Linked DNA regions of Homo sapiens: region 1 is linked to region 2. A link means that fine-mapping ties the variant in region 2 to the expression of a gene that starts in the linked region. Tissue or cell type: whole blood. Region 2 holds a variant in brackets; the other region holds the start of a gene. All regions are shown on one strand. Distances are from middle to middle.

Evidence for each region. PIP is the estimated chance that this variant, and not a neighbour inherited with it, causes the effect.
Region 1: it holds the start of RTF2, and the variant in region 2 is fine-mapped to the expression of RTF2 in whole blood (INTERVAL, PIP above 0.99).

The regions. Positions count from the first base shown.
Region 1 is chr20:56,465,731-56,470,843 of GRCh38, forward strand. It overlaps RTF2 (replication termination factor 2), which reads left to right and starts at 2,897. Exons shown (of 9, transcript NM_016407.5): 1 at 2,897-3,036. The coding sequence starts at 2,968.
Region 2 is chr20:56,408,757-56,413,965 of GRCh38, forward strand. CASS4 (Cas scaffold protein family member 4) reads left to right here and starts at 3,504. Exons shown (of 6, transcript NM_020356.4): 1 at 3,504-3,738. The coding sequence starts at 3,703. The variant G/A (reference allele first, on the strand shown) is at 2,563.

The DNA of each region.
Region 1 (5,113 bases), 57 kb after region 2:
TCAATACTTTTCTGGAGATTTAGTTCAAAGTTTTCATCAAATTCTCAAACAGGTCCAATGACTCCCAAAAGGTTAAGAAATACTGGTTTTACTAGAGGGTAATGATTTTCCTTTTTATCATTTCATTCCTCTGCTTCCCCAAAAATCCATGGCTTGGCTAGGACAAAGTTGTCTCCGAAGATGCTTGTAAGGGAATAACCTTTATTAGTTCATTCAACAAGGCAGTGGAAGAAGAAGCAGACAATGATGACATCTGCTTCCCAGTAGAGCCGGGAGAATAAAACGGCTCAAGTCCAATAAAGCGCTGAACACAGCACCTGACATGGCAGCCAGCTCTCAACACATATTTGCTACCAATGATAATAAACCTCACAAAAGTTCTAGCTGCGTATAGTCTGAGGCACAGAGTAGCCTAGAGACCAATATTCTAAAAGAGGAAACCAATGAGGAAGAGAAAAAAGTCCAGCTGCCTGAGCTAGAACACCAGCACAGCCGGTACTGCTGGGTTTTATCAGCAGCATTTGGGGAAGCAGTTAAGTCAGACGGGCCTCATCGGAGACAGCCCCTCATCTTATACTCCTTTTACTCAGCAGCTATGAGACTCTGAACAAAGACAACTTGCACATCTGAGTCTTGGGGTTTTCATTTGTAAAACAAGAGGGATTATACCTTCTAACTCTTAAGGTTATTGTGAGCCCAAAGTGAAAAAATGCCTACAAATCTCTCAGTGCACGCATGGTCATGGCTTAATAAAGAGCCGCTATTTTTGTTTTTTCTTCCCCAAATGAGAAAAGAACACTGGTTTGAGTCTTTCTAAAGATGCTGGTGTTTCTGCTCTTCTGTATTTGACTTTCTTTCCTTTGCTGTGAGAAAGAACTAATCCTAGCACTCATTCCCGGGTCTCTCACTGCCTATGTGACCTTGAAGGAGTCATTTGATCTTTCCACGCTTCTGTTTCCTCACCAGTAAATGGAATTCTAATAGTACTAACCAGTTTTAGTATCTGCCAAAACTAGGCTTTTCACCCCTTTCTCAATGAATCTGTACTTTCTTTTGGTTTACTGAGGAAATGTACTCATATATTGAGTGTGCCAAAGACTCTTCTAGGCACTGATGATACAATGTGGAATAAAAGTCCTGGCCGGGCTTGGTGGCTCACGGCTGTAATCCCAGCACTTTGGGAGGCCGAGGCAGGTGGATCACCTGAGATCAGGAGTTTGAGACCAGCCTGGCCATCACGGTGAAGCCCCGTCTCTACTAAAAATACAAAAATTAGCCCAGCATGGTGGCGGGCGCCTGTAATCTCAGCGACTGGGGAGGCTGAAGCAGGAGAATCGCTTTGATCCTGGGAGGTTGAGGTTGCAGTGAGCCGAGATCACATCACTGCACTCCAGTCTGGGCAACAGATCGAGACTCTGTCTAAAACAAAACAAAACAAAATGAAGTCCCTACCCTCATAGAGCTTACAGTTATTGTGGTTAGCATAGAAATAAATCATAAATCAATCAGAGACCAACTAATTAAAGGGATTATTTTTTAAAATTCTCATTAATCACAGTAACAAGTACCCCAAGCTTACATATAGCCCTTGAAGTTTCCACATCCACGTATTTTCTGGGCAACTCTTCCCAAGTAAAAAATATTTTCAGCGTTTTTATGTTTCACGTAGGTCAATAGGGTAATATCCAATCATAAAGATCTGCCTTCTTGGCAATGGAGAAATTTTCCCATCATATATATGTACAAATACATACATACATACATACATACATATTAATGACAGAGTCTTGCTCTGTTGCCTAGGCTGGAGTGCAGTGGCATAATCATAAGCTCACTGCAACCTTGAATTCCTGGGCTCAGGCAATCCTTCCTACCCCCTCAGCCTCCGGAGCCGCTAGGACTACAAAAGCTTACCACAACGCCTGGCTAATTTTTCTTTTTCTTTCAAGATGGTGTCTCACCATGTTGTCCAGGCTGACCTGGAACTCCTGGGCTCAGGTGCTCCTCCCGTCTCGGCCTCCCAAAGTGCTGGGATTATAGGCACTTTCCCATAATATTTATAATAATTAAAGGAACAAACAGAGAGATAGACAATCGCCTAAGAGCAGACAGACAATCATGAATTTTTAGCAAGGGATTTGTGTTCTTATAGATAAAATACAGCCTGACTCTTGGAACGGGCATGGCAACATCAGTGTATATTTTATAAGAACTATTATATCGTCTATTAATGATACTTGATTGTTAATAAAATTTTTTTAGCCTGGGCTTCAGGAAACTGTGAATGAAATACACACACGCACAAACTGTATGCAAAATTTCACACACATGCCATCTACAATATGCATGGCAACACCAGAAAGTTCCAGGCCTTAAGGGAGGGTCTTACTTCCTAGAATCTGTTGTAACATCACTTCACAAGATTTGTTGTGAGTGCTTGAGTCACAGTTGGCGCTCAAGAAAGATGCGTTCTCCTTTTAAACACAAAAATGTCCATTGATACAGCAGATTCCGTTCATAGGCATCCTTAATCGCAGAAACAGGAGGGCGGCCCTTTTCCTCAAGGCGCTCTCAGTCCAGGGATGTGCCCGCTCCGCAGCCACACAAGCTGGCGTGGGATAGGGTCAAAGAGCGGTGGATGCGCACGGGCCGCCCACGCCCTCGCTGCCCTCCCGGAGCGTGGGCGAGTGATTCCGATTGTGCAGCAGAAACCCAGGGTCTCACGGGAACGAGGAAACCCGCCCACGCCCAGCCTCCAAGCGACGCTCTCCATGACAACCGGCACTTGGTAACGGCCTCGCCCTGCCCCGCTACGCCGCGCCTAGCGTGCCGCCCCGCCCCGCCCCGCTACGCCACGACCAGCGTGCTGCGTCACGGCGGTGCGCCGGAAGTGGCTGCGGATTTCGCCGGAAATCCCGGAAGTGACAGCTTTGGGGGTTTGCTGCTGGCTCTGACTCCCGTCCTGCGATGGGTTGCGACGGGGGAACAATCCCCAAGAGGCATGAACTGGTGAAGGGGCCGAAGAAGGTTGAGAAGGTCAGTGATGTGGGCCGGCTCTTGGCGACCGGGGGTGGTGGGAATTTGACGACCCCAGAAAACGAGAGGAAGTAAGAAGGGGGAGCCAGCGGAGTTCCAGACCTGGCTGCGGTCTTTTATTCCATTCAGAGGACTCAAAATTAACAACAGTATTAAGAGTGGACATTCAATGGGTGCTGACTATTGCCATTCACTGGACAGTAATCTTAACAGGGGGTATCTCATGTAATTATCACAATAGCCCTATAGCTACATACTGTTGTCCTCATTTTCAGACATGGAAGTTGAGGCTCAAAAGGAGAAATTTGCAAAGCTAGTAAATGGCAGAGCCAGGATTTGAACCCTACCTGCGACTAGTAGCAATAATACAAATACCTAGTGTATACTGAGTTTTGTATACACTAACTTCATTTGCTCAGAGAAGCCTTCCCAAACTGTTCCCTTACCACATCCTTTTATAAACTGTCTTAGCCTGCACACGGCTGTACGTGGTTGATTTGTATCAAGTCTTCCCCGCTAGACGGTAAGTTCCTGATAGCAGAGGCTGTACCCTTTTTTTCTCTGCAACTAGCATGGTTCCTGGCACACTAAATATTTCGAATAAACAAATGAGTGAATAATCCCTGATCTCACAAGTAATCGAGGAAATTATAATAATTTCTTTGCTACTGACGGGGACATTGAGTCCAGGGATATTAAGGTGACTAAGATCACACAGCTGGTAGGTAGTGAAGCCAGGATTCCCATCCACTTATTTGGGATTTCAAAGTTAGCACAAGTAATTACTTTTTAATGATAAAATATTTGTAAAGCACCTAGTAGAGACTTCTTTACAAAAATATTTGTAAAGCACACGTGGAGACTTCATGTATTCTGATTCAGGAGCTGGAGAGCTTGTTTAAAAGGTAAACCCCTTAAGTCACTATTGTATTTGAAGCATTCCAGTGGCTTCCCATCACATTAAGAATAAAATCTCGTCAGACCCTTGAGCAGACCTTGCCTATGTTTCTGACCTCATCTTCTGCCCCTCTCCACCTCTTTCATACTGTTCTAGCTAAACAGGCCTCTTGTTCTTCAACCTGGAGTGTGAGTTCATCAATCTGAAATACTCTTCACTGAGATTGTCACATGATGAGTTTCTTTACTTCATTCAGTTTTTTACTCAAATGTCATCTGTCCACTGTAACTGAAATGTGCCTCACTTCCAATATTCTCTCTTCTCTTCTTAACAGTGCCTACCACTGTGTTGTTTATTGTCTCTTTCCCACGTAGACAGGAACCTTGTGTGTCTTACCTCTGTAACCCCTACCATGTGTCAGCCACATAATAGACACCTAATAAGTATGTGTGAATATGGGAATGAATGAATACCCAAGAGGATGAAGTGTACCCTCTGATCATACGTACATGTAAACAGGCGAATGCTGGATAATTAGCATTCATGAGTGGTTTTTTGGCTTTCACCAAAAAAGTGTTTAGCTCAGTTTTGTTTTCTTGTGCCCAGGGCTGAAAAGGAGTAGCTTAATGAAAGGCTTGACAAGAAACAGGTGTCGGAAGAGGGTAGAAAAGAAGGAAGAGCGATTCAAAAAAGCCAGAATGCCTAGGCAGGATGGATTTTTATTATAACTATTCACACAACAAATGCTTAATAAGTGGTTACCATATATACATTGTTGTAGGCCCCAGGGATATAGCAGTGAACAAGGCAGAGTCTAGCCCTGGTGGAGCTTACATTTCGGATCAATATTGTGAAATCTGCCCTGGTTCCTAACGCAGAGCACCTAAATTCCTTGTAATTTCCTGGGTGACGGGATCATCTTTTGTTCTAATAAGGCAATTATTGGTGGGCTCCTGGATGGGGCCTGGTCACCAGAAACACCAAGCCAAGATTAGAAGCCTGGAACTTTCAGCCCCACCTCACCCCCATCCTTCAGGGAGGAGAAGAGGAATTGGACATGGAGTTAATAATCCATCATGCCTACGTGGTGGGGTCTCCATAAAGATCCCTGAAGTTGAGGGTTTGGAGATTTTCTGGGTTGCCGACAACATCCACATGCCAGGAGAGTTACCCCAACTC
Region 2 (5,209 bases):
AGTAACGACCGCTTGCCTGGGGCATCATTTTCTCTCTGGCTTTTTCTTGCTCTCCTGCCGGCATTCAGCCTTTCCCTCCAGCTTCCTGTCCCCACTCTGTCCCCAGAGCATTTCCTTTGCATCCTTGTTTTCAATTCTTGCCCTAATTCCTTTTCCCTCCCAACCTGGGGGTCAAAACTTGGGTGATAAAACTAATCACTAATAACTAGAGTGGCTGCAGATTCCCCAGCCCTCCCAGTATTATCCCTGCAGCAGAATATTTGGTGAATTTGTGGGCAATTCATGAAATTCTTTTTTTTCTTTTTTCTTTAAGACAGTCTCACTCTCGCCCAGGCTGGAGTGCAGCGGTGCGATCTCCACTCTACTGCAGCCTCCACCTCCCGGGTTCAAATGATTCTTGTGCCTCAGCCTCCCAAGTAGCTGGGATTATAGGCATGCACCACCACGCTCGGCCAATTTTTGTATTTTTTGTAGAGATGGGGCTTCGCCATGTTAGCCAGGCCTGGCCTCAAATGATCTGCCTGCCTCAGCCTCCCAAAGTTCTGGGATTACAGACCTGAGCTGTCTTGCCCAGCCAATTCATGAAATTCTGCTTTGGTCAAAAGAGCTATTTTTATGAGTAATCTTCATGAGATTACAGCCTGAAACTTCCCGCCAAGCCTTTAATGTTTTGAACATTGTAAGTCTGGTGTTCAGCTGTCCTTTATAATTCAAATATCGAGTGCCCAGTGTTTCACTACTACCAGTCAGGGAGCTTGATATTCACATGAAAACAACATAAAAGCATACAGAAAAACATGCAAAAGCAATTTTCCTCCCTACGCATGTATAAGGCACTATAGAAGTGAATTGGTCAGACTCACTTGTCTCAGAAAAGAAAATTCGGTCCAAACTACTGTTCTTGATAGCACATTTGCCAAGAGCATTAAGATTACCTCACTAGAGTCCTTCTGACGTAGTTCCCTTGAACTCCAGCTGTTTCAGCCTTCAGACAACCGGATATTATGCAAGCACCCAGTTTCCTAGACTAATAGTTCTTGCAATGTTTGTCCACATTAAAGGCTCATTTGCCTTAAAATACTAATGGATTGCAGCAAAATGTCTAAGGCAGTTTCTCACACCTTTCATTCAGAAAAACCATAGAGGGCTCAAATAACAGACCGAGAGGTCAAGTTCCTTATTCACAAAATATCAAACTAGGTATCTATGTAGGAGCTAGTTGATATAATTTCAGGGCCAAAGCCTATTACTTTTGTGTCTTACTTTTCTAGTTGAGGTTGTTTTCCCTAGAAAAAACAACTTGTGAATTATAGCATTCTGATCTGTATTATGAGCTTAAGGGCAGGCTCTTCAGTATAGGGAAGAATCACTGCCGGGAGTCTGCCAAGTTGATGGAAACCATCTGAACTTGAGTTACTGTGGAGTCTTTTCTAAGAGACTTGAATTCAGTTTCTGGGTCTGTTACTTTACTCTGTGACCTTGGGCAAGTTTATCCATCCTTCCTTTTCATTACAGAGAATTTCAGACATAAAAGTCAACAATACAGCAGAAACAGTGGTTTCCAGGGGCTGGGGGAAGAACAAGTAACTGCTAATGGGGTAAATGTCCAGGAATTGAAAGAGGATTACTTTTTGAAATGGTGGTTGCACAACTCTGAATGTACTAAAAACCACTGAATTGTATACTTCAAAAAGGTGCATTGGCCAGGTGCGGTGGCTCACACCTATAATCCCAGCACTTTGGGAGGCTAAGGCAGGTGAATGACGAGGTCAGGAGATCAAGACCATCCTGGCCAACATGGTGAAACCCTGTCTCTACTAAAATACAAAAAAATTAGCCGGGCATGGTGGCACGCACCTATAATCCCAGCTACTTGGGAGGCTGAGGCAGGAGAATCTCTTGAAACCTGGAGGTGGAGGTTGCAGTGAGCCGAGATTACACCACTGCACTCCAGCCTGGTGACAGAGCAAGACTCCGTCTCAAAAAAAATAAATAAATAAAGGTGAATTTTATGGTACCTGAATTATATCTTAATATAATATTAATATATTATTATTAATATAATTTATATCTTAATATCTCTATGGATCTCCTCCTTGAACCAAACTGTTCATTGCGTGGGGTCATTGTTCCCTCCCTGTTATCTGCTATCGCCTGCAGCATGCCAATTACTTGGCCCTGAAGTTAATTTCTAACAATGATAACATTTAAAAATGTGGACTGTCTCAGCCAGAAATCAGTCAGCTACTTCAATGGGTAAATACATCCTGGTGCCCAGACTTGTGGGGACGACACATGGGACAACCAGAGGACAAGACGCTAAGTGCTATCTGTTGAACTTGCCTCAGAGGTGTGGTAAAAGAAAAGAAAATTTAAAAATAAAAAATTAAAAAATGCTGTCTGACAAGAAGATAGCGGTAAGCTATCCCCCACAGCTGGTTGGGGATAGAACTTGAGCCTGGCTTGGAAGAATGGGCACCATTTTGTCTAAATAAAAATGCAGGCCGGGGCCAGGCGTTGTGGCTCACGCCTGTAATCCCAGCATTTTGAGAGGCTGAGGTG[G/A]GTGGATCACTTGAGGTCAGGAGTTTGAGACCAGCCTGGCCAACATGGTGAAGTCCTGTCTCTACTGAAAATACAAAAATTAGCCAGGCGTGGTGGCGGGTGCCTGTAATCCCAGCTGCTCTGGAGGCTGAGGCAGGAGAATCACTTGAACCCGGGAGGTGGAGGTTGCAGTGAGCCGAGATTGCGCCACTGCGCTCCCACCTGAGTGACAGAGAAAGACTCCGTCTCAAAAAAAAAAAAAAATGCAGACTTATTTTGCTCAGTGTCTGCTATGCTGTAGGTCCTCTCTAGAGATTGGATCTGAATTTAGGAAAAGTAAAAAGAGTTGGCAAGTGATGATAAACTGCATGAGCTAGCAGGGGTTTCAAGTACAACACACACGATAAGTTTATTTGATTTAAGAGAGAGAATACAGGTGCGGGGCTCAGCATAGCCCTCAGTGCAGAGCCAGTACCCAGAAGATGTTATTCATTAGGTACCATGAGCAAAGACCAGGAGATGAGCATGGGGTTCCGAGCAGGGTGAATGCACAACTGACAGGGTGGGTAGAGTGGAGACTGTGTCCTTTAAGGCAGCCTGTTTGACTGCTTTTATCCTGGCTGTCATAAGGCAAGTTTTAGGGAGCAGGAAGGAAGAAATGCTGACCGCTATCAGAAATTTGGCCTAGTGGCCTCTCATCAGGGAAATGAGCTTGGTCTGTTCGGTTGGAGTTGTTCCACAGAGTTCAAAGGACAAGAATGCTGTGTGTTCATACACTGAGCTCTTCGAAGTAGGAACTTCGCCCTATAAAGCAGAAGAGTGGTGTTTTTTTCTTCTTCTTCTTCTTTTGTGGTTTCACATAGCAAATGAGTGACAGTCTCTACTTACAGACAAAGTGAGACGTCAGGCATTGAGACGTGAGTGTGGCTTGTATTTCTGGTCCTCCCCTGCTTCACTGCTTTCATTTTACTCTTATCGTGCTTTCCAGAAAGTTTGCCTGCTGGGAGAGTCTTTTTGATCGTTTCCCATGTGTTGTCAGATAGCTCCATAGAATTCAGTTTCTGAGAACCAGCCAGAAGCATGCAGTGACATTGCACAATCTGCCTCTGAAGCTGGAGATACTAGCTGCAGAGCTCAGGGGAGCTGCTCCACATCACCGACATGAAGGGAACAGGCATCATGGACTGTGCGCCCAAGGTGAGTGATGTGGGGCTGTTTGAATGGGCTCTGGCGGGGAGCAAGCTGTGATGATTAAGGGTGTTGACCAGCTTTAGTTGTGACTTTCTAATAAAGGTTGAATACCAGTGACGTGTGAGTTGGAGATGGGAAAGTTTAACATAAGTTTAAGTGTGGGAAATAGATGTGTTGTAAAGCTCCTTACCAGTTTGCATCCAAGATGGGTGAAAATGACTTTGTAGTAGAAATCAGCTTACTTGGTTGACAGCGCCGTCCATCATTTTGCGTCCAGCAAACTCCTGAAGCAAGATGCGAGTCTGCCTCAGCCCCCGCTAATTCCTTCTTTCTCTGGACCCCAAAGACACTCAGTGCCACTCTAACTGTCCTATTTGGTTTCTGTGCTCACCTCCCAACAGCAGAGCCCAGACCCTTGCCTGCAGCCTCCCGTGCTGAGCCCACAGTGGGCACTTACATGTTATTTTCATGTTAACTTGTGCATTATGTGAGCAAAGCTGGAGCTTTCAGACAGACTTCATGCCTGTCATGAATCAAAAAAGATTCACTATTTAGAAAGGTGAAAGAAGCCAGGCACGGTGGTACATACCTGTACTCCAGCTACCGGAGAGGCTGAGGTGAGAAGATTAATTCAGCCCAGAAGTTTGAGTCCAGCCTGGGCAACATAGCGAGACCCCATCTTAAAAAAAAAAAAAAGAAAAGAAAAGTTAAAATGGCTACCATATTAAAAAAAAATTTACCCAGACATAAAGAAAGTGAAGCTCAAGGTTGTGTTTTCATCTTGCTATGCCCTTTTTAAATTTTAAGTAGAACAGGAAAAAAGAAATGAAACAAGCAGTAAATGGGGAGCTTGCTTATAAAAATCAATGCTTATTTTTCATTATAATAAAAGTGACTAGTGTGGCTGTCTGCGGTGGCTCACACCTGTAATCCCAGCACTTTGGGAGGCCAAGGCAGGTGGATCACTTGAGGCCAGGAGTTTGAGACCAGCCTGATCAACATGAAAAAACCCCATATCTACCAAAAATACAACAATTAGCTGAGCGTGGTGGCGCATGCCCGTGATCCCAGCTACTCGGGAGGCTGAGGCACAAGAATCGCTTGAGCCTGGGAGGCAGAGGTTGCAGTGAGCTGAGATTATACCACTGCATTCCGGCCTGGGTGACAGAGCAAGACTCTGTCTCAAAAAAAAAAAAAAAAAAAAAAAAAAAGTCACTAGTGGAATTTGTGACTGAGTAACCCATGACAGTCTCTCTTGTATAGATTATATGTAAATATCTTAGCTACCCTAGAATTTTGTCCCCAACTACTTACTTTGAAAAATTTCAAACCATTGGAAAAATATGGGAAGCGTGGGGGTTATTCAGTAAATCCCTGCATATCCTTCACCTAGATCATTGGTTTCTGGTACTTTGTCATATTTGTGTGCATTTATTTGTGTATATTTAGACACTGGAACACACTTCATTTTTATTGT